Linked DNA regions of Homo sapiens. The protein of the gene in region 1 purifies or fractionates together with the protein of each later gene. This does not show direct contact. Each region holds a gene or a part of one and is shown on either strand. Other genes may lie near its edges.

Region 1 (4,476 bases):
CAATCCTAACAGCTTTCTCCCCTGCTTTGGGCCCTTCAATGTGTCCACTTTCCTGAGACGCCTTAAGGGAATTTATGCAGATCTATAAAAGTGACGATGGTCCCCCCTCACAGCCACCTTTTCCCACCAATGCTTTGTCATGTACCTTCACGGCAGGATCTGAAACTTGTCCTAGTGTCCACAGCCGGTCTTGACCTTAACAGAACCTATGTACCCTTGTGTGAAGCAGAGGCCGCAGCCTTAGGACTCTGAGCCTTGGCCTTTGCTGTGTGCCGCCCTCCACCCCTTTCTCAGACTTGGGAGGAGTGAGGAGAGGAGCCACCTGGGGCAGTTCAGGAATGGGGAGCTTCAGGACAGTTTGCACCACACACTCTGGGACTTAGCTGTGCAACACCCCGACCCCCATGTGAGGAAGGTGGTGTTTGTTTGCTCCACCAGACTGTCAGCTCCTCCCTAGGAGCACGGAGTGTGTCTTGCTCACATTCGTATCCCCAGTGTCAGCACTTAAAATGGATTCAACGGATAAATGTTGAATGAAATTCAGAAATGATGTGCAATAGTAAAAGCTAACATTTAGGAATCAACTTATTACTTACAGACACCTTTGCATATTGAGTGAAATTAAGTTGTTTGATTTAACAAATCTGTGGCTTTGGGGTAGAGAACAAGAACATAGCAAGAGGAAGCATTCTTTATTAGTCCTTCACGAAAGAGGATGGACAGACACATCTACGGAGAGGGGCTCCAGAGGCAGGGACCCAGAGATACACCCGGCCAGGCAGAACAGCTCCAGGATGTGGCCCCGATCCTGGAAAAGTGCGTTTAAAAGAGGCTTAAGGCATATCAGACAGCCTGGCCAACATGGTAAAACCTTCATCTCTACTAAAAATACAAAAAAATTAGCCAGGCATGGTGGCACAGACCTGTAGTCCCAGCTACTTGGGAGGCTGGGGCAGGAGAATCACTTGAGCCCAGAAGGCGGAGGTTGCAGTGAGGCGACACCGTGCCACTGCACTCAAGCCTGGGAGACAGAGTGAAGGAAAAAAAAAAACAGGCATTATTAGAGAGGCTTTATCTCCTACGTGTTCAAAAGCAACCATGCTCCTCCCAGTATCTCAGGACGACTGGACTGCCTGTGTTCCTGTTGCTCTTCACAGAAGCTCCATGAAAGCGGGCTTCGCTTTTGTTCATGCAGCCAGAGGCTCAACACATGACCTCGAAGCCGCCAAGGCTTTATCAAACGGATTTCTCCCAAAAACTTCGTTTCCTTCCGCGACGCCCTGCAAGAACCCTGTATTCCTGAGTCCCTGGCTCAGCGTCTGCTACCCCGATGCTGTCAATCAGATCCTGCTAATCTGAGCGGCCGTGGCTCCGTCCCGGCTCCGCGTCCGCTGACAGGTCACCGCTGTGAGTCTCCGGATTACCAGTCCAAACGGGACGGCTTGAGGTCCCCGCGCCCTAGGGACCTGCGGGGCCCGAGCGCAGGGCGCGCCAGAGAACTACATTTCCCACAGAGCTCTTGGGAAGCCGGGGCCGCCGAGACCCACGGCCCGGCGGGCGGGCTCGCGGGGAGACTCCTGGGAGTTGTAGTCCATTCCGCCGGCGCCGGCGCTGGCGCTGCTGCGGGCTCGGCGCCGGCCTTTGTCTGCGGGCACGCGCCGCTGCGGTGAGTGAGGCCGCTGGCCGGGTCAGAGCGCCGGGGCAAGGCGGGGCTGCGCCATCAGACCGCTGTCCCGGGCCCTCCGTGTGGCCGCCTTATGCCAGCGGCCGCCAAGGAAATGAGCAGGCCTGGCCGGCCCGGGCCCCGAGGGAGGCCAGCCGCGAGCGGAGAGGTCGGCGGTCCGCAGAGCAGGGTCCCGTGGACCGGAGAGCGGGATGCCGAGGTTCAGGACGCAGGGCGGGCCCGGTGCCCGGGGCCCGGGGCCTGAGGCGGGAGGGCAGCGTCTGCGGAGAGGAGCAGGGCCCATGGCGTCGGGGCGTGGGAGGGGGAGGCCGCGGCAGGCTCACCCGGCCTCCGTGCGGGCTTCAGCGAGTGCGGGAAGCCGGTGCCGGCCTTCCGGGGTGGGAGGAGAGGCAGCCCCTGCGGGGGAGAGTAGGAAGCCAGGCAGCGTGTGGGAAACCACGCTACCCACAAGCTCCTAAACCTGAAACTGGCCCCAGGACATTTTCCAGACCGCCAAGTGTACCCCTCTTCTCATCCGCCCTCCAGAGGACGCCGGATTTTAGATCTTAAGTCTGGTGGTCTCGTCTGATACTCCTCTTGTTTGGTTCTTTCCTTCTCATTGTCCTACCTGATAGGACAGTGTTAGTAACCTGTTTAATAAGTGGGGAAGCAGAGTCAGGGCTGCTGGGTTACTCGCCCAAGATCATATCCTGGGGGAGCCACGGCAAGAAGCCAAGACTCACGGACTACTTCTAAGCTTTTTCCAAAGGATATAGTAGCCTTTCTAATAGGAAAATCAATGTTTTTAATTATAAAGCCACTTTTACAAAATCTTGGGGAAACTGCTTCCTCAGACCTGTGATCTAGGGAGAAAAATATGACAATTTCTCCCTTACTAATCACGGAGGTCCCTGATAGGCGGCGGAGTTGTAACTTGAAGACCTCACAGCAGGTGGAGAGGCAGAGCTGTGAATTCTACTCTAATTTCTGGAATCCCCGGCGACAGAGTCCAACCCCAGGCAGCAGGCGCCATGTACCCCAGGGACTTTTAATGTGTGTGCAGCTGTTGAGCAAGAATACCTTGAACTTCCAAATGATGTGCTGGCATGCTGGTAGGGAATTCCTTTGCAGCTTGTGTTCCAAGTTGGAAGTGAGTCCTCCAAATAAAAATTTAAATGATTCTCCTGGTCATCACAGCATGTAGCAGAATGTGCAGTTGTCAAGAAGAACCAGGTGCTTAGGTTGACAAAACAAAGAATGGTAGCATCATACTATTATTTCATTAAATCAGAAGGCCAGCATTTTGATAGGACAAATTAGAGGGAAACAAGGAGTATGCATTGAACCACTGCATTTCTTAAAAGTATAAGAATTCAGTAATTAGGATCCTGAAGTAAGAAGAAATATTTTTTTTAAAAAATAGATCATGTGGGCCAGGTGTAGTAGCTCATGCCTACATGTCTTGGGAGGCCGAGGCAGGAGGGTCACTTCAGGCCAAGAGTTGGAGACCAGCCTGGGCAGGATAATGAGACCCGATCTCTACAAAAAAAAGTTAAAATAATTTTTAAAAATTAGCCAGGCTTGGTGGTGCTTACCTGTAGTCCTAGTTATTTGGGAGGCTGAAGTGGGAGGATCCGTTGAGTCCAGGAGTTCAAAGTCACAGCAAGCTGTAATTGAGTCACTGTACTCCAGCCTGGGCAACAGAGCAAAATCTTGACTCAGAATTTTAAAAAAATTAAAAAATAATTTAGAGCACATACAAGAGGATTCCTAGGATCTGAAAGAGCACTTCAATCTGGTCAAACTCTCTTCCTTTCTGTTCAATTTTATAAGCATTCTGACCAGCTCTTTAGTGATTAGGAACTAGACAACTGTCTAATGTAAGAGCATACATTTTGGATCCAGAAAGTCTTGGATTTGAACCTTTGCTCCACTTTGACTCCTTATTTTCTGTGGGTTTCTGGGCAAGTTACTTAACCTAGTTGGAGTGCCTTGGGCTTGGAGTCCAGAGTAGGTCTTTCTTTTCCAAGAATTGACAAGTGTTTACACTTGGTCAGAACTGGTATTCTTGTATCTTCAAGAGCAAGAGAAAGGCGAGTCTGGGTCTGGAGCCTCCTAAGAATTGTTCAGTGGTAACAAATGGACTCTCTTGTTAAGTCTTTGTAACTACAGATAACTGGAGAGCTGATTGGCTCCAACCAATCATGAAGGCTGAAATGTTGTTTTCTTAGATTCTGAATTCCTCTGGGGCTTGGAGGGAAGAAAGTAGTAGGTGGTTAGGTGGGGAACCAAAATGGAAGATCCCAATTACATGCCAAGACCAAAGTGTAAACAGGAGTGACTATTAACTTGGGATTGGCAGGAAGAGATATATGTTTATGTGTTCTCTGCTTTCCCACATCCTGCTTCCTCCTAGACTCATTTGTGTGTGGTCCTGGTACCTTTGGGCCCATTTTGCAGTGATATTTTAGTAACTGACATTATGTCAAACAATCTAGGTTTCTTACATTCACTTATGTCTCAACAACTGTTGACTTTTTCCTTCTCACATATCAATTATTCTGCCCTTTCCTGTTTGTTTCTGTTTGTTTTTCTCCCTCAGGTGCTCAGGAACAGCCCATGGAAGAATCATATGAAGAGGTGGTGACTGAGGTCGTAAGCAGGAGTGGACATGTTTGGATTTCCAACAGCTACCCTGCTGGACTGTCATGGAAGATATGCCCAGAATGTAGCGTTCTTCAGTGAGTGAGTCAGTTGATGGCTGGATGCGCTCAGCTCACAGATATTCAGTGTCCCTGTTCTCAGCACTGGTC
Region 2 (4,442 bases), on another chromosome or scaffold:
CTTTAAAAAGTAATCTCAGGCTGGGTTGGGGGGTGCTCAGGCACAGGCACCCAGCACTTTGGGAGGCAGAGGGGGGCAGATCGCTTGAGCCCAGGAGTTCGAGACCAGCCTGGGCAACATGGTGAAACCCTGTCTCTATTAAAAAAAAAAAAATTAAGCCAGACATGGTGGTGTATGCCTGTGGTTCCAGCCACTTGGGAGGCTGAGGTGAGGGGATTGCTTGAATCGAGGAGTTCGAAGCTGCAGTGAGCAGAGATCGTACCACTACACTCCAGCCTGGGTGGCAGAAGGAGACCTTGTCTCAAAATAAATAAATAAGGGTCACCTCAGTGACATAAGTACTTTAGTACATCTAACAGAATTCACAAGAATTACTTGTGAATTGCTTGTACTCTGCCTACCTTCTTATTTCTCCATCTATCTTAAAAAGGTCTTTTTACAGTTTGTCCAATCAGAATTATAATGAGGCCACAAATATGTTGTATTTGCTTGATGTGTCTGTAAGATCTTCGTATCTATTACAATCTCCTGCCCTCTTAAAGCCCTTGATATGTTAAGGAAGCACGGTTGTTTTCTATAATTTCCCATATTCTAGATTTGGCTAATTGTTTCTTGGTAGTACAAAGTCTTCTAAGTTGTTCCTTTACTCTCTATATTTCTGGTAGCAAGTGTGATTAGATTTTGGGTGGGAGGAACCGGGGTCAAGAATGCTTCACAGACAGGTATTTCCTAACTATCAAAGACCCTTGAACTTGATGGGACTTTCCATTTTTCCTTGTTCTGGGGTATTTAATATGGTAACCTGATTGAAGTTCGGATATCTCACATGACTTTGAGCCGAACTTGCAGTCGTAATTCACATAATAGCTAACACATATTAAGTGCTTTTCATGGGCCGGACTCAATGCTAGGCCCTTTATAAATATGTTCATTTAATCTTCTCAATATTTTGCAGATAAGGAAAGTAATGCTTAGAGCGTTTAAGTTGACCCAGTTAGCAAGGATGGTGTGAATTTAGGGGTCGAACTGGAATCCCAATTTCCTTAGTCCCTTTCGCGGTCAACAATTCCCTTCTCCGGTTTTCGCAGTTCCGGTTCTCACAGGGTCCCAACCACTAGGAACCCGTCACTCCTCGCTCCGCCCCCCTTGGCCCCGCCCCACCCTGCTTTGCCCTGCCTCTCCCTGCCCCGCCGCGCCCCAGTCCCTTGACGACCCTCCTCTCTGGGCCCCGCCCCTCCCGCTTCGGGGTCAAGCCCCAGAGAGCGCCGCGAAAACCACATTTCCCAGAGTGCACCGCGACGGCAGGGGTCCTCAGACCGGCGCTCGCTCGCCGGCGCCATCCCTATAGAGAAGAACGGAGGTACGGCCTGTGGTCATGGCGCTGTTCCCAGCCTTTGCGGGGCTTAGTGAGGCTCCCGATGGCGGGAGCTCCAGGAAAGGTAAGCACACAAACGAGCCGAAGAAGGCACCTGGGGGGCTTAAGAGGCTGTTTCTCGGGCCCAGGTCTAGACTTTTGCTTTGGATTTGTGTATCCATTTGTATCCCAGAGTTCTCCGCGGCGCTGCAAAGCCTTCTGGGAAAGGCTCAATCCCTCCGAGGTCTGGGGCCCAGAGGCCTGTTCTGGACCAAGGTTGTAGAGTTATGGAGGGGTGGAGAAAGACCAGCAGATGCCCTGGAGCTGGGACTTCTGTACGATGTTGTTAGGTCCTGTTCTTCTTTTCGAGCCTCAGTTACTTCATCTTTAAATTGGGAATAATGATACTCGACATCTCGAGGAAACCCTTGATGCAAATGCAGAATGTTTTTATTACATATTACTTCCTTTCCTGTTATACTTATTTCTGAAATGCTTATTAGATTGGTATTACTTAGCGGCCTAGAGCTAGGGGATTAGTATCCAAAACCTAATCAGTTTCTCTCTGGAGGGGCACAGCACCCAGTGAAAATAACTAACATTTATTCTTGAGGGCCTAGTGTGTATCAGGTTATGGCTTTACACATTTTACTTAAGTCCCAGACATTTCCAGCAGAGCTGCATTGTTCAAAATTGGGGTACATAGTTCATTTAAGAAGTAATTAATCCTGGCCAGGAGCAGTGGCCCACACCTGTAGGTGGAAGGATAGTTTGAGCCCGGGAGTTCATGACCATCATGATCAACATAGCGAGACTCCTGTCTCTTAAAAAAAAAGCCAGGCGTGGTGGTGCACACCTATAGTATCAGCTCCTCAGGAGGCTGAGGTAGGAGGATTGCTTGAGCCCAGAAGTTTGAGGCCGCAGTGAGCCATGATCGTGCCGCTGCATCCTGCCCTGGGGTGGGGGGACCTTGTCTCTAAAAAAAAAAGAAAAAAAAGTAATTCTAAATTATGTGCCATATGTGACAGGGCGCAATTGAGTCTTACCTGTCTGTTATATCCTCTAATATAGTTCCTACACTTTCTGTAACGTTTCTCCTAATTTTTTTTTTTTTTTTTGAGACAGGGTCTCACTCTGTTGCCCAGGCTGGAGTACAGTGGCACTGTCATAACTCACTGCCGCCTCAGACTCCTGGGCTTAACTTCCTGCCTCAGCCTCATGAATAGCTGGAACTACTGGTGTGCACCACCAGGCCTGGCTAATTTTTTTTAATATTTAGTAGAGACGAGGTCTCACTGTGTTGACCAGGCTGGTCTCGAACTCCTGAGCTCAAGCGATTCTCTATCTGAGCCTCCCAAAGTTCTAGGATTACAGGCATGAGCCACTGCGCTTGTCCTATTTCTCATAATTGTGAGTAATTTCTTGTGTAAAATTGTTGTCTTCCCTTACTAGACTGTAATCTCTATCAGGTTGGGCAGTGTTTGTCTATTCATTGTAGCATAGTTAGCCCCTAGCACAGGTCCAAAGTATAATAGGTGTTCAATAAATATTTTCTGGATGTACAGATCGATAGTAGTTACTTAATAATTACGTGTTGCAGGAATGCATGAGTGCACCTAAAAGAAGTGTATAGTACAAGGTGGGATATTACAGATACCATAGGTGAACTGCAGGATTAATTACTTCTTTTTATTTATTTATTTATTTATTTTTTTTTTTGAGACCAAGTCTTGCTCTGTCGCCCAAGCTGGAGTGTAATTGTACGATCTTGGCTCACTGCAGCCTTCGCCTCCTGGGTTCAAGTGATTCTCCTGCCTCAGCCTCCCGAGTAGCTGGGACTACAGGCACTCACCACCATGCCCGGCTAATTTTTGTATTGTTAGTAGAGATGGGGTTTCACTGTTTTGGCCAGGCTGGTCTCGAACTCCTAACTTTAAGTGATTCGCCCACCATAGCCTCCCAAAGTGCTGGGATTACAGTTGTGAGCCACCACACCCAGCCCAGGAATAATTACTTCTAATAGAAGGTTCAAAGAAGGCTTTATGTAGGAACTAATATTTTTTTCTTTTACTTTTTTTTTTTTTTTTTTTGAGGCAGTCTCACTCTGTCACCCAGGCTGGAGTGCAGTGGCACAATCTCAGCTCACTGCAACCTCCGCCTCCTGGCTTCAAGTGATTCTTGTGCCTCAGTCTCCCGAGTAGCTTGGATTACAGGCATGCACCACCACACCTGGCTAATTTTTTGTATTTTTAGTAGAAATGGGGTTTCACCATGTTGGCCAGGCTGGTCTTGAACTCCTGAGCTTAGATAATCCGCCCACCTCGGCCTCCCAAAGTGCTGGGATTACAGGTGTGAGCCAACGTACCCAGCCTACTTTTTTTTTTCTTAAGTAGGGACAGGGTCTTGCTATGTTGCCCAGGCTGATCTCAGACTGCTGGGCTCAAGTGATCCTCCTGCCTCAGCCTCCCAAAGTTCTGGAATTACAGGCGTGAGCCACTGTGCCTAGCCAGGAGCTAAGTTTTGGATGGATCTTCAAGAGAGTAGGATTTGGACAAATAAAATGGGGGAAGTGTATACCAGGGCCTTCAAGTCCTGCAGAAGAAAAGTGTGAGAACTGCAAATCATCTAGTTTGTCTGGAGGTGTAGTGGCATAAAGAGGAGCCTTGGGAAATATGGTTGGGCTGGTGGTGATGGAGGATAGTGATCTTTAATAACATGTCAAAGCTTTATCCTTTTATTTTGAGAGGGGGAAATCGAACTTTTGCAGAGGAGTCTTACTCTTAAATAGTATTTATTTGACATCCTCTGGATATCTACAATCAGGAAAATGTGTGTAAAAGTATGTTTTATAAAGTATTGTCTTTTGAAAAAATATAAACACAGCATCATCTCTTGTAATGGAAAAAAGCCTTAATTCTTTTCTGGTCATTTTCACTTACCAGTCAGTGTTCAAATTTCACGAGATGTTTCAAAAATGGGATTTTACAGTTGGATTGTCCAAGTCAATTTCCAAAATACAGCCAACATTGCATTTTGTGGATATATGCCTTAGGTCTCTTTCAGTATAAATCGGTTTCTTCCTCTCCTT

The links.
Region 2: the proteins of ZNF32 (region 1) and NRDE2 purify together in Homo sapiens (affinity purification with mass spectrometry; one large-scale study listed by BioGRID and IntAct). This does not show direct contact.

The regions. Positions count from the first base shown.
Region 1 is NC_000010.11:43,645,992-43,650,467, reverse strand, and holds the start of ZNF32 (zinc finger protein 32), read left to right. Parts: upstream 1-1,586; 5' UTR 1,587-1,666; intron 1,667-1,668; exon of another isoform or gene 1,669-1,883; intron 1,884-2,448; exon of another isoform or gene 2,449-2,899; intron 2,900-3,258; exon of another isoform or gene 3,259-3,356; intron 3,357-4,170; exon of another isoform or gene 4,171-4,265; 5' UTR 4,266-4,334; coding exon 4,335-4,404; exon of another isoform or gene 4,405-4,428; coding exon of another isoform or gene 4,429-4,476. UniProt on the Homo sapiens protein: May be involved in transcriptional regulation.
Region 2 is NC_000014.9:90,328,838-90,333,279, reverse strand, and holds the start of NRDE2 (nuclear exosome regulator NRDE2), read left to right. Parts: upstream 1-1,338; 5' UTR 1,339-1,375; coding exon 1,376-1,439; intron 1,440-4,442. UniProt on the Homo sapiens protein: Protein of the nuclear speckles that regulates RNA degradation and export from the nucleus through its interaction with MTREX an essential factor directing various RNAs to exosomal degradation.